Linked DNA regions of Homo sapiens. The protein of the gene in region 7 purifies or fractionates together with the protein of the main gene of each other region. This does not show direct contact. Each region holds a gene or a part of one and is shown on either strand. Other genes may lie near its edges. The genes, in order: PKN3, CLOCK, RPRD1A, ATF1, STRN, GOLGA5 and TUFT1.

Evidence for each region.
Region 1: the proteins of TUFT1 (region 7) and PKN3 purify together in Homo sapiens (affinity purification with mass spectrometry, with the first as the bait; one large-scale study listed by BioGRID). This does not show direct contact.
Region 2: the proteins of TUFT1 (region 7) and CLOCK purify together in Homo sapiens (affinity purification with mass spectrometry, with the first as the bait; one large-scale study listed by BioGRID). This does not show direct contact.
Region 3: the proteins of TUFT1 (region 7) and RPRD1A purify together in Homo sapiens (affinity purification with mass spectrometry, with the first as the bait; one large-scale study listed by BioGRID). This does not show direct contact.
Region 4: the proteins of TUFT1 (region 7) and ATF1 purify together in Homo sapiens (affinity purification with mass spectrometry; 3 studies listed by BioGRID and IntAct, with this or other methods). This does not show direct contact.
Region 5: the proteins of TUFT1 (region 7) and STRN purify together in Homo sapiens (affinity purification with mass spectrometry, with the first as the bait; one large-scale study listed by BioGRID). This does not show direct contact.
Region 6: the proteins of TUFT1 (region 7) and GOLGA5 purify together in Homo sapiens (affinity purification with mass spectrometry, with the first as the bait; one large-scale study listed by BioGRID). This does not show direct contact.

Annotation. Positions count from the first base shown.
Region 1 is NC_000009.12:128,716,003-128,719,502, forward strand, and holds part of PKN3 (serine/threonine-protein kinase N3), read left to right. Parts: intron 1-744; coding exon 745-921; intron 922-2,322; coding exon 2,323-2,385; intron 2,386-2,546; coding exon 2,547-2,623; intron 2,624-3,500.
Region 2 is NC_000004.12:55,452,910-55,456,409, reverse strand, and holds part of CLOCK (circadian locomoter output cycles protein kaput), read left to right. Parts: intron 1-109; coding exon 110-192; intron 193-406; coding exon 407-513; intron 514-2,585; coding exon 2,586-2,733; intron 2,734-3,012; exon of another isoform or gene 3,013-3,280; coding exon 3,281-3,356; exon of another isoform or gene 3,357-3,500. UniProt on the Homo sapiens protein: Transcriptional activator which forms a core component of the circadian clock.
Region 3 is NC_000018.10:36,029,560-36,033,059, reverse strand, and holds part of RPRD1A (regulation of nuclear pre-mRNA domain-containing protein 1A), read left to right. Parts: intron 1-1,962; coding exon 1,963-2,069; intron 2,070-2,154; coding exon 2,155-2,252; intron 2,253-3,500. UniProt on the Homo sapiens protein: Interacts with phosphorylated C-terminal heptapeptide repeat domain (CTD) of the largest RNA polymerase II subunit POLR2A, and participates in dephosphorylation of the CTD by RPAP2.
Region 4 is NC_000012.12:50,770,601-50,774,100, reverse strand, and holds part of ATF1 (cyclic AMP-dependent transcription factor ATF-1), read right to left. Parts: intron 653-3,500; exon of another isoform or gene 1-652.
Region 5 is NC_000002.12:36,851,537-36,855,036, reverse strand, and holds part of STRN (striatin), read left to right. Parts: intron 1-3,500. UniProt on the Homo sapiens protein: Calmodulin-binding scaffolding protein which is the center of the striatin-interacting phosphatase and kinase (STRIPAK) complexes.
Region 6 is NC_000014.9:92,804,305-92,807,804, forward strand, and holds part of GOLGA5 (golgin subfamily A member 5), read left to right. Parts: intron 1-2,431; coding exon 2,432-2,659; intron 2,660-3,500. UniProt on the Homo sapiens protein: Involved in maintaining Golgi structure. Stimulates the formation of Golgi stacks and ribbons. Involved in intra-Golgi retrograde transport.
Region 7 is NC_000001.11:151,564,309-151,567,808, forward strand, and holds part of TUFT1 (tuftelin), read left to right. Parts: intron 1-216; coding exon 217-306; intron 307-1,854; coding exon 1,855-1,920; intron 1,921-3,500. UniProt on the Homo sapiens protein: Involved in the structural organization of the epidermis. Involved in the mineralization and structural organization of enamel.

The DNA.
Region 1 (3,500 bases), on a different chromosome or scaffold from region 7:
AAAAAAAAAAAAAGGAGGGGGAGGCTGGGCACAGTGGCTCATGCCTGTAATCCCAGCACTTCAGGAGGCCAAGGTGGGAGGATTGCTTGAGCCCAGGAGTTCGAGGCCAGCCTGGACAACATGGTGAAACCCGCCTCTACAAAAAATACAAAAATTAGCTGGGCGTGGTGGTGCACACCCAGCTACTCGTGAAGCTGTGGTGGGAGGATCACTTGAACCTCAGTGGCGGAGGCTGCAGTGAGCCGAGATCGCACCACATCACTCCAGCCTGGGCAAGAAAGTGAGACCCTGTCTCAAAAAAAAAAAAAAAAAAGGCTGGGCGCACTGGCTCACACTTGTAATCCCAGCATTCTGGAAGGCCGAAGCAGGTGGATAACTTGAGGCCAAGAGTTCGAGACCAGCCTGGGCAACACAGCGAAACCCTGCGTCTACTAAAAATACAAAAATTAGCTGGGCGTGGTGGCGCACTCCTATAATCCCAGCTACTCGGGAGGCTGAGGCACAAAAATCTCTTGAACCCGGGAGGCAGAGGTTGCAATGAGCTGAGATCACACCACAGCACTCCAGCCCAGGCGACAGAGCAAGACTGTGTCTCAAAAAAAAAAAAAAAATGAAAAGAAACCATCAGTCTACTTGCCTGGCACTTTGGCTGAGGGCCCAGTGAGCCAGGGGTGTTGTGCAGGGCACAGGGCACAGCCCAGGGAAAGTTTTCCTTCCCTCTAATACTCTTGCTCTCTCCTGTAGCCTGTACTGCGAGAAGCGGATCCTGGAGGCTGTGGGCTGCACAGGGCACCCTTTCCTGCTCTCCCTCCTTGCCTGCTTCCAGACCTCCAGCCATGCCTGCTTTGTGACTGAGTTTGTGCCTGGTGGTGACCTCATGATGCAGATCCACGAGGATGTCTTCCCCGAGCCCCAGGCCCGGTGGGTTCCATCCCTCCTGCCTGCCTCTTCCAGCAAACTTTGCCTGGTTCCCTACACCCACTCTCTACATACTGCTTTCTCCAAGTGCCCAACAGCAGGGGAGCAGGAGTCAGAGGCCTTGGTTTACATCCTGGCACCAACTGACAGCATTTGTGATCCTGGGTATCAGCTTATGAAGCTGTGCATTAGGTTTCTTTTTTTTTTTTTTTTTTTTTTTTTTGTGAGACAGAGTCTGGCTCTTATTGCCCAGGCTGGAGTGCAATGGCATGATCTCGGCTCACCACAACCTCCGCCTCCCTGGTTCAAGCCATTCTCCTGCCTCAGCCTCCTGAGTAGCTGGGATTACAGGCATGCACCACCACTCCTGTCTAATTTTGTATTTTTAGTAGAGACGAGGTTTCTCCATGTTGGTCAGGTTGGTCTCTAACTCCTGACCTCAAGTGATCCGCCCACCTCGGCCTTCCAAAGTGCTGAGATTACAGGCGTGAGCCACCACACCTGGTGAGTCTCAGATCTTTATTTGAAAAATAGGCATGATTGGCCGGGCACCTGTAATCCCAGCACTTTGGAGGCTGAGGCGGGTGGATCACCTGAGGTCAGGAGTTCGTGACCTGGCCAACATGGTAAAATCTTGTCTCTACTAAAAATACAAAAATTAGCTAGGCATGGTGGCACACGCCTGTAATCCTAGCTACTTGAGAGGCTAAGGCAGGAGAATCGCTTGAACCCAGGAGGCGGAGGTTGGAGTGAGCCGAGATCCCGCCACTTCGGTCTGGCGACAGAGTGAGACTCCATCTAAAAAAAAAAAAAAAAAGGCCGGGCACGTTGGTTCATGCCTGTAATCCCCACACTTTGGGAGGCTGAGGCGTGTGGATCATGAGGTCAAGAGATCAAGACCATCCTGGCCAACATGGTGAAACCCTATCTCTATAAAAACTAAAAAAAAAAAAAAAAAAAAAAAATTAGCTGGGCGTGGTGGCGCGTGCCTGTAGTCTCAGCTACTTGGGAGGCTGAGGCAGGAGAATTGCTTGAACCCAGGAGGTGGAGGTTGCAGTGAGCCGAGATCGCACCGCTGCACTGCAGCCTGGGTGACAGAGTGAGACTCCGTCTCAAAAAAAAAAAAAATAGGCATGATGAATATCCACTGCAGGGACCAACACTTGGTCCCTGGCACCATTTAAGGGCCCATGAAGGGTGAGCTGGAAATGCACGCAACCTTGGGGCGACCTTGGGACTATTGGAGCACCCCCACCCTCAGCATGATGCTTGTCCCAGTCTCACTCATCTCTGACTCTGGCCGGGACATCCGGGATCCCCCCGCTATGGCCATCCTGGTGCCTCCCTGCCCTGCCTCCCTGGTGTGTGTCTTGGGCCTGAGTTCTCCCATAACCACCCCTGCAGCTTCTACGTGGCTTGTGTTGTCCTGGGGCTGCAGTTCTTACACGAGAAGAAGATCATTTACAGGTGACTTTTGTCCCAGGGATGCACGGGGGTAGGGGTGGGGGTGGGGGTGGAGTGGGTAAGGACAGATGCTGCCTCCGCCTGCCTGGGCTGCTCCAGGGGCCGTTACTGTTCCCTGGGTCTAAGCCCCACTCAGTCCCTTTGATCTGCACCCTTGCCCTCAGGGACCTGAAGTTGGATAACCTTCTGCTGGATGCCCAGGGATTCCTGAAGATCGCAGACTTTGGACTCTGCAAGGAAGGTGGGGGCCGCCCATTGGGATCCATATCTCCAGCCTTGTTTACCCACCCTGGCCAATAGGATGATGGGCACATGGCATGTCCCAGGAAATCTCCTCACCTGCGGATGCCCTGGTTCCACCACCCCAGACCTCATTCCAGGGGACAGCTGGGCACACTGGCCCTTTCTTCCTAGTCCTAGAGGCTCGTAGCCCCAGCCTGCACCTGGCCCAAGGGAGAGCCTGTGGTCAGGGATGGGAGAGGAGACTGAGTTCTGCCTTCTGTTTTTTTTTTGGTTTGTTTTTTTTTTTGAGACGGAGTCTTGCTGTGCCGCCCAGGATGCAATGCAGTGGTGCAGTCTCGGCTCACTGCAGCCTCCACCTACTGGGTTCAAGCGATTCTCTTGCCTCAGCAGCCCAAGTAGCTGGGACTACAAGCGAGCACCACCACACCTGGCTAATTTTTGTATTTTTTTAGTAGAGACGGGGTTTCACTGTGTTAGCGAGGATGGTCTCGATCTCCTGACCTCATGATCCACCCACCTTGGCCGCCCAAAGTGCTGGGATTACAGGCGTGAGCCACTGCGCCCGGCTTCTTTTTTTTTTGAGATGGAGTCTTGCCCTGTTGCCCAGGCTGGAGTGCAATGGCGCAATCTCGGCTCACTGCAACCTCTGCCTCCAAGGTTCAAGAGATTCTCCTGCCTCAGCCTCCCGAGTACCTGCGATTACAGGCACATGCCACCACACCCAGCTTATTTTTTGTATTTTTAGTAGAGACGGGGTTTCACCATGTTGGCCAGGCTGGTCTCGAACTCCTGACCTCATGATCTGCCCACCTCGGCCTCCCAAAGTGCTGGGATTACAGGTGTGAGCCACCGCACCCAGCCGAGTTCTGCCTTCT
Region 2 (3,500 bases), on a different chromosome or scaffold from region 7:
ATTACAGGTGTGAGCCACTGCACCTGGCCATGACTTATTTTTATATGTAGCAATATTTAATATTCTTAAGGACACAAAGTATTTATAAATTTTAATTATTTATTTGTAGGAAATGTGCACTGTTGAAGAACCCAATGAAGAGTTTACATCTAGACATAGTTTAGAATGGAAGTTTCTGTTTCTAGATCACAGGTAATTCCATTTTTAAATTCCATGAAAAGGTAATAGTCATGTTATATAATTCTTGAAATTAATGGATCAAGGGCAAACTTTTTTTTAAATTAGGACTTTGAAACCTGTTCCCATTTTTTGAAAAATAAAGCCCCCCCCCCAAAGTTTATTTCTAGTTGAAATATTTCTTATTATGGAAAAACTTATAATAATGATTGTTTTCTGTGTAATTTAGGGCACCACCCATAATAGGGTATTTGCCATTTGAAGTTCTGGGAACATCAGGCTATGATTACTATCATGTGGATGACCTAGAAAATTTGGCAAAATGTCATGAGCACTGTAAGTAGATTTTAACATTTCTGGTGATAATAACTGTTTTATAAGCAGAAGTCCTGTCCTGAAATGATAGGTAGTAAGACACAGATTTATAATCATTTTCATATTTTTGAAATATGCTAAAAGATTTTGCTTTATGTATATAACCAATGTAGTAGGAATCATAGATCAAGTTTAAACTTGTTCCTATTTTTATAATAAGTAGAATTTTATAATATTGCATCTAATACACCTTGTTCTGAAGCACGTGAGCTCTATATCTGGAGTAAGAGAAGTAGATTCCTTTGAAAATTGTAATACTTCAAACTTTTGGAGTATTGTTTCCTAAATTTTGATTTTGAGGCATGTGAATCTTTTCAGGAGCTAGGTACATGTCTGGAAAATCTGTCTTAGAAAGCTCATAGTAAGTGCTTGGTGTTATCTGCTTATTATTGTTGTTAGAGCAGGAGCATTATCATCCTTTGTGCCAGGCACTGTTCTAAACACTTTACATCTATTATCTTCATTATTCTCCATCACAGTTCTAAAAGGTAGATGCTATTATTATCTTCATGAGTAAGCTGAGAACACAGTAAGGCTAAGTAATTCACCCATAATTTCATAGCTCATTGGTGGCAGAGACAGGATTGGAGCCTAGGCCTACTCTTTTTATCACATGTATTTATTTTAGAAGTTTGTTTTAATGATGAGGTTTGCCTTAATGATATGTTTTATTTGCTTCTCTGATCCTCCTCCCAGATGCTTACCATCTTGAGTGTTCACTAAAGCTTAACTAGATATTTTAGACCTTTTCATGACGTTTTATGCTGCTGTTATAAACCTCACTGTATGAAAATGAAGCAGGTTGTATAATAGCATTAACTCTATGGAAAATTTTCAGAGTAAAGTCATTTCAGCACAAAAGATGTGGGCATTAAGCACCATGATGTTGTCTAAAGAGCTGATACCTCTATTAACTAGCTGGGTAACTTTGGACAGCAAGTTTGTTTGTAGACCTTGATTTCCTCCTTAGAGAGTGAGAGGCGGTGGCGGCGGGGTTGGGGGGTGGGGGGACAGATTGAGAGATTCTTGACTAGCATTTTCTAAGGTTTGTTCCACCGAATGTTGGTCCATAAAAAAAGACTTTATAGTCAAGGAAGATGGGGAAACACTTCATAATCCCTCAGAGAATCTGCACATGCATTAGCATACTCTAGGTTTTGAGAAAACTGAAGACACCTATTTAACAAAAAGTTTCCCAAATTAATTTAACTACAAACCCTTTTTTTTTTTTTTTTTTTTTTTTTGGGATGGAGTCCTGCTTTGTCACCCAGGCTGGAGTGCAGTGGCGTGTCTCAGCTCACTGCAGCCTCCACCTCCCGGGTTCAAGTGATTCTCTTGCCTCAGCCTCGTGAGTAGCTGGGATTACAGGCACGTACCACCATGCCTGGCTAATTTTTGTATTTTCAGTAGAGATGGGGTTTCACTATGTGAGCCAGGGTGGTCTCAAACTCCTGACCTCAAGTGATCCTCCCACCTCTGCTTCCTAAAGTACTGAGATTACAGGCGTGAGCCACCACACCTGGCCCAAAACCCATTTTTTTGTTTAATATCTGTTAAAACGCTTCAGAACTTAAAATCCACAGCACATGTTTTGGCAGTTACTGCACTCAGTTACTTCAGACTCAGTTACTTTGATTTTGGTTAGTTAAGGTTTAAAATTAAATGCTTCAAAGATTCTGTGCCTGCCAGAGTAGTTAGGAGAAAAAACTCAGGGGTGATTATTTATTGTTATTACCCTCTGTATATCTAGGCAGGAGGAAGTCAGCAGTGTGAATTCTTAAGTATTAATTGTGTATGGAAAGATTGTAAGATCAGCAGTGACTAGCTGTGAATTGGGCACTGTAGATCTGATAATTGCTTGGGACCTTAAACTAGCTCTAAAGAATAACATTTTCATATTGACATATATGTTATCAAAAGGCCAGAAAAATAATAGTATGTGTAAACTTAAATGTAAATGATAGCTTTTGGTTAAAAAACAATCTTTATATAATATGAATTAAAGAAAAAATATTTCTCTATTTTCCTTTTAGTAATGCAATATGGGAAAGGCAAATCATGTTATTATAGGTTCCTGACTAAGGGGCAACAGTGGATTTGGCTTCAGACTCATTATTATATCACTTACCATCAGTGGAATTCAAGGCCAGAGTTTATTGTTTGTACTCACACTGTAGTAAGGTAATAATTCTTTTAGAGAATTTCTGAATTACTGTAACATCCTATGATGATTTTGGCATTGTAACTTTTATGCGTAAGTTGTTAAAGAGCTACAAAGTGCTCTTTTCTCAATTGCTGATAGATCCTTTCAATATATTATTAAATTTACTTATAGGCATTATATATAAATATAGGAATGATATAGATATATAAGTCTTGATATAAATTTTGTGCTTTACAGCAGAAGTTGTTACTGTCATTTATGTAGTAATGTCAGTCATGTAAAAGGAAAACTGTAGGTAGATAAGCATACACTTCCTTTATTTATTTTTCTTAATTTAAGTATTGTGTGGTTATGGATCGTTTACAGCAGTGTATGAAACTTTAAGATACCTAGAAAAATGCAAGTTAAATTAAGACATTATAGGTATATTTTAGGTTTGTGTAGCACATAGCAAATAGTCTAGATGAACAGATGAGACACGTAACAACACTGAATAGTTACAGCTGTGCAGTATTTTAAACGAATGACCAGACACTAAAATTTGATTATTTTTTCCATTTGTAGTTATGCAGAAGTTAGGGCTGAAAGACGACGAGAACTTGGCATTGAAGAGTCTCTTCCTGAGACAGCTGCTGACAAAGTATGTTTCTTATAATTAAAAAAAATTATTTTTAATTTCTCCCCAATAAAAGATGAAACTCAATAATTAATAGGAAAACTATTTTTCAAAAATACTTTATTTCCTCACTTATAACGGGGATGTGATTATACTTTACTACTTATT
Region 3 (3,500 bases), on a different chromosome or scaffold from region 7:
AGTGCTGGGATTACAAACGTGAGCCACCATGTCTGGCCTGTTTCCATTCTTTACTTGCCCTCTGGGTAATTTTGTACATCGCATGTATTTGGTTATTCTCCACACCGTAATGACTTACAGTTTTATGCTCCAGTCCAGATTTTTTTTTGTTCCAAACCTGTGTGCCCAATTGCCTTTTGACATTTTTACTTGTATGCGTCTCAAACATTTCAGACTCACTGTGTCTGATACAGAACTCATTATGTCCTTGCTTCCCACCGTACTTGTCCCTCCTGTAGGTTTTATACTCTGTGAATGGCAACTCGATCTATCCAGGTGCCTATGCAAGAAATTATGTTACCTTTAAACTCTTCTTTCTCCTTCAGTCCCCATATCTCACATAGTACACATTGACTCGGTTCTTTGGATTTCTTTCCCTTTTAGTTACCATAATGTATTTTCAGTATAATTTTAATGCCCTTTAGTATTGTTTAATTTCTTTAGAAAACTCGACAGAGTTGCAGAGCTGGTCATAATACTTCCTTGCCTTTGAGTGGTTCCCATTTGTTTTAGAGATGAAGTCTAAAGTCCTGAGCAAGACTTAAGGTGTTCCTTCGTGGCACTGCCTATCTCCCCAGACCTCTGTCTCGCATTTATTCCACACAGTCTATAGTCTACAGTTTAAGCTAAATTAACCTTTTTTAGTTCTTTCCGCCTTAAGTCTTCTATATATGTTGCCCCTCCCTAGAATTCAGTAAAATATTTATTGGCTGCATAAATATTTATTATATGCAAAACCCTGAGTAGTAGTGACCAAGACAGTTTTGTTCTACTGGAGCCTACATTTCATTGGATGACAAAGTTAATAAGTAGATAGACAAGTGAATGCATAATGTCAGATGACAAATGCTAGCAAGAAATACAAAGCAGGGAAGGAACTAGATAGTATGAGGGCGCTCAGTTATGTGATGAGATAAAGAACAACTATTTGGGGAAGGTGGCATTTGAACAAAGACTAAAGGAAGGGGTGAAATGAGCCATTTGACTAGGCAGAAAGGATTCTAGGTAGAGAGAATATGTGGCCGAAAAAATGAGATAGCTTATATGCTGGACATGTTTGAGGACCTTAGCAAGGAGATTTGTATGGTACTAGGTATTAGGGAGTGTGTACTGAGGGACTGCCAGAAAGCAGAGCATGTGGGCCTTATGGCCCAGAGTAAGGATTTTGGTTTTATTCTTGATGTGATTGGTAGCTCTTGGAGGATCAAGAGCTGTATAATCTGATTTACATTATTAGGATGCTTTGTACAGAATAGAGTAAAAGAGTAGAGGCTGGGAGAGCGTGAGAAGACTTTACAAAATTCTAAGCAAGAGATAGTAGTGTTTCTGTCTACAGTGATAGCAATGAAGGAGGTAGGAAACAGTTGGGAGTAGTCTGTTTTTCATTTCCCCATATGTCTAGTCTTAAGATCTCAAATTAAATATCATTTCCTTAAATACTCTTCCGGATATCTCTTAAACAGGGCCAGGTCTGTCTTAAGCACTTTGTTCTCTTTTGTGATACTTATAAATAACAACTGCCATAAGCTGCATTTGCATCTCCATGTCAAAGATAGTAACTGGATCAATAAGTATTTGTTGAATAAATTTAAAAAAATAACCTATGAGAAATCTTCCTTAGCCCCATGTCCAGGCCCCATTAGGATAGGAAATCCCTAGCAGCCAGTACTAAAACTTTTACAGTTTAAACTTTTTTTGGTTGTGTAATAATATGTTTATAAAATGTTTACTAGAAGCAAGCAGTGTGTCTAGATCACTTCACTTTTGAGCTGCTGGCCACATAGTGATGCTAAGTAGACATTTGGACAGTTTTTTCCAGGGAATGAATGTCTGATTATATTTAAAGTTACCGTTAACCTTTTCAATAACACTATGCATTGTTACTGTTAACATTTTTCTTTTTTTCTTTTTTTTTTTTTTTAGTGAAACTGATGAAAGTTGTAAGAAGCACCTTGGAAGAGTGTTATCTATTTGGGAAGAAAGGTCTGTTTATGAAAATGATGTATTAGAACAACTTAAACAAGCTCTGTGTAAGTGTAGAATCCTGATCTCTTACCTTGATCTCTTCATTAAAATGTATTCTTTCATTAATACTTAAATGTTCTTTCATTTCAGATGGTGATAAGAAGCCTAGGAAGCGAACTTATGAACAGATAAAGGTGGATGAAAATGAAAACTGTTCCTCTCTGGGATCTCCAAGTGAACCACCACAGGTAGAAATTTTACCCTGTTAAAAGAGTTACAAACTTTTACTTCATGTTGCCACCAAGCTTTATTAATTTCGTTTCACTTCTGTAAATTGATTTCTATTATACTTTTAGGTACAAGAAAGAAGCCACATGAATATCTCTTCCTCATTAACAAATTGCTTATGTTAAATGTAGTATGTTGTATATTGTATATTTTGCATAGAAATCATGTTTTGTATAGAAAGAGGATTTTTAATTGCCAAATATGGTTAGATGTGAGATGTTAGCTATTTAAACTTTTTAAAATAAAACAAAACATGCCTATTTTGTTATGTGATTTTTTTTTTTTGAGACGGAGTTTCACTCTGTCCCCAGGGCTGGAGTTCAGTGGCACTATCTTGGCTCACTGCAACCTCTGCCTCCTGGGTTCAAGCGATTCTCCTGCCTTAGCCTTCCAAATAGCTGAGACTACAGGCACGGGCCACCAAGCCCAGCTAATTTTTGTGTTTAATAGAGATGGGGTTTCACCATGTTGGCCAGGCTGGTCTTGAACTCCTGGCCTCAAGTGATCCTCCCACCTTGGCCTCCCAAAGTGCTGGGATTATAGGCATGAGCCACTGTGCCCGGCTCATGTATGATTTAAATACACTAAAATTTTCATTCTTGGACATAATCACTGCCCCTTTAAGTATTTTTGTTTTTAAATGTAAAAAGTAGTGTTAGAGTGGCCGGGCGCAGTGGCTCACGCCTGTAATCCCAGCACTTTGGGAGGCCAAGGTGGTCGGATCATGAGGTCAGGAGATCGAGACCATCCTGGCTAATATGGTGAAACCCCGTCTCTACTAAAAAATACAAAAAATTAGCTGGGCGTGGTGGCGGGCGCCTGTAGTCCCAGCTACTCGGGAGGCTGAGGCAGGAGAATGGCGTGAACCTGGGAGGCGGAGCTTGCAGTGAACCGAGATAGCACCACTGCACTCCATCCTGGGTGACAGAGCGAGACTCCGTCTCAAAAAAAAAAAAAGTAGTGTTAGAGTGATATATATGTGTTCATACATTTCTTTGTAACTATATAGAACTATGTAATTCTGTGGAAAAATAAGTTAGAATTATTATCTTAACACTCTGTGTCCTCCTACATGTTGGTATGGTATGGTATTCCTTAACCATCAGATTAATTCCAGAAAGACTTTTTTTTTTTTTTTTTTTTAAGTGGGCATTGAGTCTTTAAGCTTCCTCCTTCTATGTTTCAAACATGTAGGCGGGACAGATAAA
Region 4 (3,500 bases), on a different chromosome or scaffold from region 7:
GAGATAGTGCCAATGCACTCCAGCCTGGGCAACAAGAGTGAAACTCCATCTCCAAAAAAAGAAAAAAGAAAAGAAAACTTGCAAAGAAAGAAACATTATATGTTAGGCAATAAACTAAGAGCTTTTTAAGCTCAACATTACTGATCATTAGAGAAATGTAAATCAAAACCGCAATGAGATACCATCTCACGTCAGTCAAATGGCGATTACCGGCCTGGCATGGTGACTCACACCTGTAATCCTAGCGCTTTGGGAGATCGAGGCGGGCAGATCACTTGAGGTCAGGAGCTTGAGACCAGCCTGGCCAATATGGCAAAACCCCATTTCTACTAAAAATACAAAAATTAGCCAGGCGTGGTGGTGGGCACCTGTAGTCCCAGCTACTTGGAAGGCTGAGGCAGGAGAATCGCCTGAACCCAGGAGGCGGAAACGATGCAGTGAACAGAAATTGCACCACTGCACTCCAACGTGGGCAAGAGAGCAAGACTCAGTCTCAAGAAAAAAAAAAATAGCTGGCATCGTGGGTGACTGTGGTCCCAGCTACTTGGGAGGCTGCCCAGGAGGCGGAGGTTGTAGTGAGCCAAGATTGTGCCACTGCACTCTAACCTGGGCAATAGAATGAGACTTTGTCTCGAAAAAAAAAAAAAAAAAAAAAAGAATGGCAATTAAAAAGTCAACAGTTGGCGAGGTTTGGAGAATAAGGAATGCTTTTACGTTGTTGGTGGGAGTGTAAATTAGTTCAACCATTGTGGAAGACAGTGCAGCAATTTCTCAAAGACCTACAGGTAGAAATACCATTTGACCCAGCAATACCATTATTGGTATATACCCAAAGGAATATAAATCATTCTATTATAAAGATACATGCCCACATATGTTCACTGCAGCACTATTCACAATAGCAAAGACATGCAATCAACCCATATGCCCATCAATGAGAGACTGGATAAAGAACATGTACATATATATCATGGAATACTATGCAGCCATAAAAAGGAAAGAGATAATGTCCTCTGCAGGGTCATGGATGGAGCTGGAAGCTGTTATCCTCAGCAAACTAACAAAGGAACAGAACATCAAACACTGCATGTTCTCACTTATAAGTAGGAGCTGAATGGTGAGAACACGGGGACACATGGTGGGAGAACAACACACACTGGGGCCTGTGGAGGAGGGTGCGGTGGGGGAAGGGAGAGCATCAGGAAGAACAGCTAATGGATGCTGCGCTTAATACCTAGGTGATGGGTTGTTCTGTGCAGCAAACCATCATGGCACATGTTTACCTATGCAGTAAACCTGCACATCCTGTGCATGTACCCTGGAACTTAAAAGTTGAAGGGAAAAAAAAAGGCTAGGCGCACTCCAGCCTGGGTAACAAAGTGAGACACCCGTCTCTTAAAATAAAAGAGAGAGAGAGAGAGAGAAAAATATATTTAGACAGTTACCTCACCCCAGCTTTAGAAATGGGACAACTTGGCCAGGCACAGTGGGTCACACCTGTAATCCCAGAACTTTGGGAGGCCGAGGTGGGTGGATCACTTGAGGTCAGGAGTTCGAGACCAACCTGACCAACATGGTGAAACTCGGTCTCTACTAAAACTACAAAATTAGCCAGGGGTGGTGGCACATGCCTATAATCCCAGCTACTTGGGAGGCTGAGGAAGGAGAATCGCTTAAATCCAGGAGGCGTAGGTTGCGGTGAGCCGAGACCATGCCATTGCACTCCAGCCTGGGCAACAACAGTGAAACTCCATCTCAAAAAAGAAAAAAAAAAAAAAAAAAGGAATGGAGCAATTCAGGCACAACAAAACTTGCAAAAATATAGCCAAGTGCGATGGCTCATTCCTGTAATCCCAGCACTTTGGGAGACACTTTGTACCCTTAAGCGATAGGATCGCTTGAGCCCAGGAGTTTGAGACCAATCTGAGCAACACAGTGAGACGCTATTGTTACAGGACAGGGTCCCAATCCAGACCCCAACAGAGGGTTCTTGGATCTCGCACAAGAAATAATGGGTCAAGTCCACAGTGTGAAGTAAAAGCAAGTTTATTAAGAAAGTAAAGGAATAAAAGAACGGCTACTCCATAGACAGAGCAGCCCCGAGGGCTGCTGGTTGTCCATTTTTATGGTTATTTGTCGATGATATGCTAAACAAGGGGTGGATTTTTCATGCCTCCCCTTTTTAAACCATACAGGGTAACTTCCTGACTTTGCCATGGCATTTGTGAACTGTCATGGCGCTGGTGGGAGCACAGCAGTGACGACGACCAGAGGTCACTCTCGTGGCCATTTTGGTTTTGGTGGGTTTTGGCCGGCTCCTTTACTGCAACTGTTTTATCATCAAGGTCTTTATGACCTGTATTTTGTGCTGACCTCCTATCTCATCCCGTGACTTAGAATGCCTTAATCATCTGGGAATGCAGGCCAGTAGGTTTTAGCCTCATTTTACCCAGCCTGTTTAAGATGGAGTTGCTCTGGTTCATACGCCTCTGACATTTCCCCCCGTCTAAGAGAACCCTTAATCCTAAGGGTTGCAGAGGGACGAAGATCCATCTTCTATAACTTCTTCAGGCTAAATAGGGCAATGATATTCCTGCCTGCCTATGAGGGTCTCTTGCATTCAGGGTAAAAAGGAGCTCAGTCAGAAAGCATCAGTATGGTAAGGTTCATTCATAACTCAAGTTTCAACAAAAGGTGGTATCTGGAAAATTAGTAAGAAAACGTTCAGTAAGCTTGTCCTGTATTCCTACACAAAAAGTATAACAGCAATATATTCCACAAGAGTAAAGCAAAATAGGCTGGGTACAGTGGCTCACACCTGTAATCCAGCACTTTGGGAGGCCGAGGCAGGTGGATTACCTGAGGTCAGGAGTTCGAGGCCAGCCTGGCCAACATGGTGAAACCCTATCTCTACTAAAAATATAAAAGTCAGCTGGGCGTTGTGATGTGTGCCTGTAATTCTAGCTACTTGGGAGGCTGAGGCAGGAGAATCACTTGAACCCAGGAGGCGGAGGCTGCAGTGAGCCAAGATGGTGTCACTGCAGTCCAGCCTGGGCGACAGAACAAGACTCTGTCTCAAAAAGAAAGAAAGAAAAAAAAAAGAGTAAAGCAAAATAAGTAAAGTTATTCCAAATAAACTAAATTAGAAGACTTTTCATGAACCAGGCAACCACTGGAACTAAGCTGATATCGGGTTGTTAGCTGATTGTAATGTGCCCAGAATCAGAATACTGATCCAGATTTTTAAATTACCCATCCCTCTTATTTCTTCTGAGCAACAATTAGAGATTACTGGTTGGTTTACAAGAATACGCAGGGTTAGCCTAAATTGCAGAAACAAACTTAAAAACAATTAATGAGACCAGAATTTAATAACAAGTGTACCATAGTTTTTGAAACATAGTATTTCTCTCTCCAGTTTCCCATTTTTACTAAAGACAAATTATGGTAAGACTGACTTGCTTTATTATACTTGGCCTGATTGTTTGTATAAAGTGCAG
Region 5 (3,500 bases), on a different chromosome or scaffold from region 7:
TTTATGTACATTTATAACTATACTGTTTGAAATAGCATTTGAGCTGTTATGGGTCAAGTTTTATTTTATACTAAATGATTAATTTTCAATTCTATTTGAAGAAAGCCATATTTATTCTGAATAGGAAATTCTATTTTTCATTTCTCGTAATTTCATATTTTAAATCAACTTAATTTTATATTAATAGTATGATTTGGTACAGCTCAATACAGATCATGTTGTGGCACTCAGAATTCCAAACCTGAAGCTTCTTATTGGATGCAGGAAGTCAGGAAATAAGTGCTTTTTCAGGTTATGAAGAAGATATTACAGACTCTTTTTTGGTTTTTGGCTTTCTTAACCATTGCTTTCTGTCGTTAGCCATAATCTAGACAATCACAGTTTAGGTTGCAGTTGATGAAGAATACGACATACATATACTCTTGTTTTAATCTGAGAACTAGCTTTAAAAGTGATGATATGTTGTGTGTGTGCACATGCATGTGTGAACATGTACATGCATATGTTTACATATGTTCTTGTGGTGTTCTCACTCTCTGTCTCTCTCTCTCTCAAAAAGTTTCTTTATTCCTTTGTGGTTTTCATCATTTTCCCTTCCTAACCTGTTGTTCATTGTTTTCTTCTGATATGCTGAGACTTGTTTGGGGAAGTAAGCATGAATAGAACTTTGAGCTACTTGGATGTAAACGAGAGAGACAGGAAAATAAATTAAACTCAGGTGATAGAATTGGAAAAGGAGAATTTTTTTCAGCAAGAAATTACAGGTTTTAGACTCTCAATAAATTTAAAATCATGTTTAAATATATGACTCAAAGCTACAGTAGCAAAATAAAAAACTAATATGAAATTAGAAAGGATGAGAACATTTTTGTAATTACCTTCAGAGATTATATGGCCAATTTGTGAACATCCTGAGTGGAAATAGTGCTTTTTAATGACTGCAGGTTAATAAGATGTCAAGTCTGGTAGATAAGATGGATAAAGAGAACTAGGCGAGTGAATCCACATTTTCCCCCAAGAGATGTGACTCTAAATTAATAGGACTTTTTACTTGACACTGGAAACATTTTGAGAAAACTTCCAAGAATGTTTTTAACAAAGGCAACATTACTGGAATAAATGATCATTATTTTGAGTTGTAATATGTCCTGACATTTTCTAAATTATGTTTTTTACTTTTAAAGTTGTATAAAGAAAACTTAAATTAGTCTCTTATTATGTTTTACTGTGAACTACCCCTTGTTATTTATAATTGATTGTGTTGTTCTGTTTTGGAATTTAGCATATTTTTTTAAAAAAATGAAAGGACCAAACAAGCTTCAAGGAGAAAGTGAGTTTTATATAGAGTTTAAAGTGATGAAGGATGTTTGTTAGAATAGGAATAAATTACCCTTCTTCTCATTGATGTCAATGGCGATTTGACTGTGGTAAAGTCAAAGGTAGTTGAAGCAGATACGTCACAAGCTAGGTATGAGTAGTGTTCTTTGCATTCTGCCGACTTCTCTGATTTATCATCAAGTGGAGAAGCTTCCTTAAAAGTGTTACCAAATAAGAACTTTCTTTTGCCTGTTTCCATGATTTGATTTCAATCATATTTATTTTCTAGCTCTCAAAGCAATTGAGGCTATTCTCTGAAACGTCTCTCTCAGAATATATGGGATATTTCACTTAAAGTATTTCTTTTTTTGTTGTTACTGTTATTCTCTTGCTGGACTTTACCACGGGTGTTGCTCAATGGAGTATTATCTGTGGAGGAAATAATGCGTAGTCTGAATTTTATAAATAAACATCTCTTTGTTTAGGATCTAAACCAGGTGTAACTGACTAAGAACTTACTCCACATGGTCAAGTGAGTTTTTGTTTTATATTTATTTTTTTTTGAGACAGAGTCTCGCTCTGTTGCCCAGGCTGGAGTGCAGTGGTGCGATCTCAGCTTACTGCAACCTCCACCTCCTGGGCTCAAGCGATTCTCCTGCCTCAGCCTCCCAAGTAGCTGGGACCACAGGCGTGTGCCACCATATCTGGTTCATTTTTGTATTTTGCGTAGAGACAGAGTTTCACCATGTTGGCCAGGCTGGTCTCGAACTCCTGACCTCAAGTGATCCGCCTGCCTCGGCCTCCTAAAGTGCTGCGATTACAGGTGTGAGCTACCGTGCCCAGCCACATTTTATATTTAAATAACAGGCTGGGTAATTACCTGCCACTAGCATTGGGAAAAGACTGTCTTCAGTTTTTAAGATGTTATATTTCTAGGAGCCACATGAAAATCCTGTAAGATTAGACTATTTTTAGCTGTATTTTCTATTATGTGAATATAAACTTGTAATACCTATTCTAGGGTTCAAAAAATTTTTTAAACTCTATTTTGAAATAATTTTAAACTTGCAGAAAAGGTACAAAAATAGTACGAGAACTTCTGGCTACCCTTCACACATATTTAGCAGTTTTTAACATTTTGTCACATTTGCTTTTTCACTCTATATATGTGTATAATTTTTAATTCTGAACCATATGAGAGACGTCATGCTCCTATTCCCCTAGATCCTTTAGCGTGTAATTCTAAGATCAAGGGCATTCTCTGATGTAGTGTATTACAATGATCAAAATCCGGAAACTTAACATTGACACAATACTATTATCTGAATTACTATTTATATTCAAATTTTGAGAGTTGTTCCAGTAATATATTTTACAAGGACACCCCTTCCTCTCCCTGGACCATAATTTAATTTTTAAAACTTTGACATACCTTCAATTAGTGTTTTCTTTATGTCAGTTTTTCTTTTCTCTTAAAAAAAGCTTAACAGAAATCACTGAGGTTTTAAATTACTGATTTCTTTTTAATAAAAGCCTTTCAGGAAGAATGTGTGATCATTTAGGAACCAATTTTGACAGTTGTGTGATCTGCATGAACCATCAGGTTGGGAGAGAGTCAGAAGTTAGAATAGGTACTGATTTTGTCACCTGATTGTGGAGGAGTCACAACTTTTTCTGAACCTTGATGTGTTCACTGTAATATAGGCTTAATGATATGTGCTTGCCTGTCTCATTGTGTGTATAATTGAAGTTTCTTTGGAACTTACTAACACAAAAAATACAGTTAGGATGCTGACTTTTAGGATTCCAAACCTAGTTCTGTCAAATGACCATTTCTATTATGATGAGGAAGAGTGATAAAGGGATTTAAGGATTAAGAAGCCCTCTTTGTCATATATATCTTTAGATGATAATGATGTGATACAGAACTTTGTATGCAAAAAGAGCTGAGATTTAAATTTGAGAATTATCTCCATGTAAGTGATGATAGAACTTACTTAAAGTAGCAAAATCTCACAGAACATTGTAGAATGAACAGCGTTAGTGGCTCTAGACTAAGCCATAGATGGCACCCACATATAGCAGGAAATTGTAATTTATAAATATTTCCAGATTTATCAGGCAATTCTCTTTCCTAACATTGAAATTTTGAAAACAGTCACAGAATAAATGAACTAAAGACA
Region 6 (3,500 bases), on a different chromosome or scaffold from region 7:
GTCCTTTCTCCTCGGCCTCCCAAAGTGCTGGGATTACAGGCGTGAGCCACCACGCCTGGCCTACTTCATTTCTTTTTAAAATCTTTATTTTAGAAATTTCAAACATACCAAAATAGAACGTAATGACCTCCTATTATCCAACTACAGTAATCACTCATGGCCATTCATGTTTCATTTATACCCTCCCATTTCCCATCACTTTCTTCACCTGCACCCTCCGCACAATTAATTTGAAGCAAATCACAGATCTTATATCATTTTTTCTATAAACATTTCATTTTCTTACTCTAAAAATACTCTAAAAGCAAATGTTCACACCATTATCACCTTAAAAATGTAATAATTTCTTTCTTTTTTTTTTTTTTTTTTTGAGACAGGGTCTCACCTTTTGCCCAGGCTGGAGTGCAGTGGTGCAGTCTCAGCTCATTGCAACCTCTGCCTCCCAGGTTCAAGCGATTCTCCTGCCTCAGCCTCCGAAGTAGCTGAGATTACAGGCACCCGCCACCATGCCCAGCTAATTTTTAGTAGAAACAGGGTTTCACTATGTTGGCCAGGCTGGTCTCAAACTCCTGACCTTGTGATCCGCCTGCCTCAGCCTCCCAAAGTGCTGGGATTACAGGCGTGAGCCACCACGCCCTGCCAACACTCCCATTTTTAAGTCACGTCTTAGGTGCCCATTCCCTACCCCACTTGATTATTAGCTTTTTGTGGTTATTTTTTCTTTTAGGTAAAATGTACATATATTAAGATGCACACAAATCTTAGCTATATGACGAATGGCAATACCTGTGTAACCCACACCTTTACCGTGTTATAGATTTCCTTTGCCCCAGAAAGTTCCTCATGTTCCTTTCCACTTAATCTCCTCACCCCGTCCCTGAAAGCACCCAGTGCTCTGATTTTTCTCTCCTTAGTTTTGCTTGTTCTAAAACTTCATATAAATTGAATCATATAGTATATATACTTTCTAATCTGGCTTCTTTTACTGAACTGTTAGTGAGATTCATCCATGTTACTGTTCTTTTTTTATTCTGTTTTATTATGTAGTACTCTATTATACGGCTGTACCACAGTTTATCTATTCTCTTTTATGGACATTGGGTTTGTTTCCAGTTTTGGATTATTGTGAATAAAACTGCTATAAACATTTTTGTACTTGCTTTTTTGTGGGCAAATGTTTTCATTTCTCTTGTATAAATACCTAGGAGTGGAATTGCTGGGTGAAACGGTAGCTGCATGTTTAATTTCATAAGAAATTGTAAAACCTTTTCCCCCAGTGATTGTACCATTTTATAGTCCCACCAGCAGTGAGAGGTCTAGTTGCTCTGCAGTGTCACCAACATTTGGTGTTTTTAATTTTAGCCATTCTAGGGGGTGTCTGTTGGTTCTCATTGTGATTTTAATTTGCATTTCCTTGATGACTAAACATGTTCAGAACTTTTTCATTTGATTATTGATATTTGTTTATATAACCTTATAAAGTATCAAGTCTTTTACCCATATACTGATTGTTTTAGTCAGTTTTATTATTTAGATATATAGTTCATTTTCATCACATAATTTTTAGAGTAATTTAAAAGTATACTTGCATTATATTTAGTAACAAAAACAAGATTAATCTGAATTCATGTGTCTCTATCTCTTTGGGTAAGACATGTTAGATTCCAGTTTGATTAAAAAAAAAAAACAAAAAACCTTGTAGTGACCTGTTATTACTCTTCTTGCCTTGAAACCTGCAGCTACTCTATTGTGCCTTCCCAATTTTTCAGTATTTGAGACTTCTCCTGGTTTTTTTTCCCAAAAGCATTTTGGAGACAAAAGGAAATCCAAACCCATTTTACCTGAACCCAACCACTCACATGATCTCTGATGTTCTCCCCAGAATGGTGTTGTACTGTCTGTTGTCATTCATTCAGTGTATCCAGACTTGAGTATCCTTAGAGGTCCATATGCCCCATTTATGAGAATGAAATTTAATCAGAGGGAAGACTATTGAAAATTTGTTTATTTATGTATTTTTTTTGAGATGGAGTCTCGCTCTGTTGCCCAGGCTGGAGTGCAGTGGTGCAATCTTGGCTCACTGCAACACCTTTGGCCTCCCAGGCTCAAGTGATTCTCCTGCCTCAGCCTCCTGAGTAGCTGGCACTACAGGTGTGTGCCACCACACCTGGCTAATTTTTGTATTTTTGGTAGAGATGGGGTTTCACCGTGTTGGTCAGGCTGGTCTCAAACTCCTGACCTCAAGTGATCTCCCTGCCTCGGCCTCCCAAAATGCTGGGATTACAGGCATGAGCCACCGCGCCTAGCTGAGAATTTACTTTTTATGGTGTTTTAGCTGTAGCAGTCAACTTGAGCATCCTACCAAAGCAAGTTGTTAATGCATATGTGATGAACACGCCAATGTAACAAAAACGTATTCTTTTTTTTACAGAAGCTGCCAGTAACTCAGATTCTAGCCATGAAGGTCAAGAGGAATCTTCAAAGGAAAATGTGTCATCAAATGCTGCCTGCCCTGACCACACCCCAACACCTAATGATGATGGCAAATCACATGAACTGTCTAACCTTCGACTGGAGAATCAGCTGCTGAGGAATGAAGTTCAGTCTTTAAATCAAGAAATGGCCTCGTTACTCCAAAGATCCAAAGAGACTCAAGAAGGTAGAGGCTTAAATTGTTCAGGATTAGGAATTTAACTTTTAAAAATAAACTTAAGGCTGGACGCAGTGGCTCGTGCCTGTAATCCCAGCACTTTGGGAGGCCGAGGCGGGCGGATTGCCTGAGGTCAGGAGTTCAAGACCAGTCTGGCCAACATGGTGAAACCCTGTGTCTACTAAAAATACAAAAAAATTAGTCAGATGTGGTTGCAGGCACCTGTAATCCCAGCCACTCAGGAGGCTGAGGCAGGGGAGTTGCTTGAACCAGGGAGGTGGAGGTTGCAGTGAACCGAGATTGCACTACTGCACTCTAGTCTGGGCAGCAGAGCAAGACTCTATCTCAAAAATAAATAAATAAAAATAAAATAAAATAATAAACTTAAAAACTTTAAACTGTTAGAAATATTTACATTTAAACTGTGAGAAATTAGATGCGACTTGTAAAATGATATTTTCATAGAAAAACTGCCCAGATTTGGAAATGGGACCAGTCATCCTCCCACCAACCCAAAACATAAGAGTATTCGCTTCTTTGGTCATCCTTTAAGAACCATGAAATTGAAGAACTGAGAGGAACAAACTAGTAGTAGTCTAGTTCATTCATTTATTCTGAACTTTCAAGGGAAGCTGTTCCATTAAACAAAGTAGTAGGCACTAATAGAGTTGCAGTGTTGCTGCTCTAGGGCATATAAAAGGTACATGGAATTCAGTTCAGTGCCCTTGGGAATTGTGCAGTGAGGTGGCCCTGGAGTAGAAAACCTCAAGTTCCTCAGAAATAGGTAATTAAGAAGGAAATAATCTCATTATGGAGGTAGTGACTGAGGAAGATGTGAATGTTATTGTAA
Region 7 (3,500 bases):
CACATTTTACTTATTTGTCTTTTGTGTCTTGTGTCTCCCCAACAAGAATGTCAGCTGTAGCTCCACTTGACCAAGGTCCCTCCCTCCATCCTGCAGCCAGTCGTTAGGACAGTGCCTGACTCGCAGTACAGGCCAGGGATGGGGCACAGAGTTGGGTGAGTTGGCATGCTCTCTTTCTCTACCCTAAAGCTCAAGTTTCTTCCCCTCCCCTCCCAGGCCAGGAACTGCCTACAGAAGCTCCGGGAGGATATAAGTAGCAAGCTTGACAGGAACCTAGGAGATTCTCTCCATCGACAGGAGATACAGGTAATAGGAAATGGTCCATGGTTGGGTCCCCACCGAGGAGGTGGGGTTGTGCCAGGCAGTCTCATTTACCAATTACCCAGTGTGTGCTAAATCTAGCATCCCTGCCAGGAATGGAGAAAATAGAGGTGATGCTGGCTTCTCTGGAGCACTCACAATCTGGTTAGGACTCTCCAGCCGATGAGCACTTACATTTACACATGTCAGCTTAAACATAAGTACACCTGCTCCTGAAACACTGTACAGAAATTGAACTTATATAAATTAAATATCATCAGTTGTTAGCAAACCTCTTATCTATAAGGATTCTGTGATCAAGCTTCTTATAATAATAGAATTTTGTAAAGCAGACAATCACCTGTAAATCCACACTTCTCATAAGCTGATCTTGCTTAGTTTGGGTGATACCTGTAGCGTAAATTGAAGTCCGTGCCCTAGCCTGTTATTAATCTTGTATATAGTTATGTCTAACCTGGGATGGGAAGTTCCTCAAGGTTAGGAGTTCACCCCACCCCACCCCACCTCGTGTCTGTATCCTCACCCTCCCATTCCCCCCAGGTCTGGGATGTAGAAGGCATCAGTAAATGTTTGTTAGACTGAACAGATTGGGTAAGTCTTTCCTGGGAGGGATAATCCTGGGATCCTGCTTTTCAGTTTTTCCAAAACTCGAGGACAGAAATGTCCTCAGGAGAGCAGAGCTGTCTCTTTGTGACTTCGCCCTCATCCTTTAGATTCTGAGTTGTATCCTTGATTTGCATTTTGGTTCAGGCAGAGTCTTGCTCCAGCAGCAGCCCCTGCCTTCATTCCCTTGAGGGGAACAGTGGCCCAGCAGCTGGTGCAAGGAAAGTTCTTTGTCTTGGGCATGCACTTGTGTGGTGGAAATTACCTAATTTTTGCTTTGGCTGAAGGTAGGTCTTTCAGTGCTTGAGCTCACATCTGGCTGGTGGGAGCTACTTTGTCAGGTATCAGAAGAACCTAATGTGTGCAGAGACTGGCCCAAAGTCCAGCCCCCTTGTTTGCACAAACCGGCTGTCATATGATGAATAATCAGGCTTTGGGTCAGAAATAATTGAAAAAGATCTTCCCTTTGTAATTTTTGCTTTGTCAAACTTTATCAGGATCCCTGGGGGCAAGGGAAGCTCTTTGTTTGTGGCAGGCAGCTGCATGTATTCCCTGGCTAAGAAGAATGGGCTACACATACTTTTCCATCTGCTGAAAGATTTTAGCCTGAGGTTTTTTTCATCCTCCCTACAAGACTTTCAAGGCCCTTTCAAGGCCGCATAACATCTCTCCACCCCCTCTTGTTTCTATTTTCTCATGGAACGCTAGAAATCTTTTCTTCTTTCGCTTCGTTCCTTCTTCCTCTTCTCCTTTCTTCATTCCTTCCTTTTTCTCCCTCCCTTTCTTTTTCTCTCTCCCTCCCCCTCCCTTTCACCTTCCTCTCCCTCTCCCTGTCCTTCTCTTTCTAAGATTTGAGTGTTAGGAGAATAATGTTTCAAAGTTGGTTGCTTTCATCTGTTTTAACTACCAATTTTATTTTTCTTTGAACAGGTGGTGCTAGAAAAGCCAAATGGCTTTAGTCAGAGTCCCACAGCCCTGTACAGCAGCCCACCTGAGGTAGGTAACAGAGGACACCATGGTGGCTCCGCTTAGCCAGGGGCAGGATTGCCTCCTCCCCATCCTTTTGTTTATTGCTTTCTCTCTCTCTCTCTCTCTCATTAAATACAAGAGTAGTAGTTGACATAAAAATTCAAACACAGAGAAATACAAAGAGTAGAAATTCTCCTTCCCCAATCTCTCTCCTTGCGAGTATCCACTGTTAACAGATTGAAGTGGGTGGATCTTTCTAGGGCAGTGCTTCTCAGCCTCAGCTGTTCATTGGAATGGCCTTGCAAGCGTTAAAGGATATGATGCCTGGGTCCCATCCCTAGAGCTTGTCATTTCATTGTTCCAATAGGTGGCCTGGGCATCAGGACTTTTAAGAGCTCTTCAGGTGATACTAATGTTTAGCTAAAGTTGAGTGCCAGTATTCTAGAATATTTTTATATACATAGACAACCATATTTAAATATCATGTATATGTTATATACACACCATATATACATGATAAATATATGTATATAATATACATGTGCTTTTCTCAACTATAAGATCATGGTAAATACATTATTCTTTGCTTGCTTTTTTTTTCTTAACTAAAGAGTATATTATAACCTTCTTTCCATGTCAGTACATATAGATCTACCTCATTCTTTTGAATAACTACATAGTATTTCCTTCCATGGCTGTACTTGATTGATTGACTGATTGATTGATTGATTGACTGACTGACAGAGTCTCACCCTGTCACCCAGGCTGGAGTGCAGTGGCAATCATGGCTCACTGCAGCCTCGACCCCCGGGGTTCAAGCAATCCTCCCACCTCAGCCTACCCAATAGCTGGGACTATAGGGCACGCGCCATTATGCCTGGCTAATTTTTGTAGAGATGGGGTTGCCCAGGCTGCTCTTGAATTCTTGGGCTCAAGTGATCTGCTTGCCTCGCCTCCCAGAGTGCTGGGATTATAGGCATGAGCCACTGTGCCTAGCCTACTTTTTAAATTTTTATAATTATTATTTTTTGGGACAGGGTCTCCCTATGTCATCTGAGCTGGAGTGCAGTGGTGCAGTCATGGCTCATTATATTCTCAACCTCTTGGGCTCAGGTAGTCCTCCTGCCTCAGCCTGGGAGGGACTGTGGCAGCCACTATAGTGGCTGGGACTATAGACACGTGCCACCACACCTGGCTAATTTTTGTATTTTTTGTAAAGACAGGGTCTCATCATGTTTCCCAGGCTCATCTCAAACTCCTGGGCTTAAGTGATCTGCCCACCTCGGCCTCCCAAAGTTTTGGGATTATAGTCATGAGCTACTATGCTTGGCCTCCATGACTGTACTTTATTTGTTATTTTTTGAGATGGAGTCTCGCTCTGTCACCCAGGGTACAGTGCAGTGGTATGATCTTGGCTCGCTGCAACCTCCACCTCCTGGGTTCAAGCAATTCTCGTGCCTCAGCGTACTGAGTAGCTGGGACTACTGGCGTGAGCCACCACGCCTGGCTAATTTTTGTATTTTTAGTAGAGATGGGGTTTCACCATGTTGGCCAAGCTGGTCTCGAACTCCTGACCTCAGGTGATCCTCCCACCTTGGCCTCCCAAA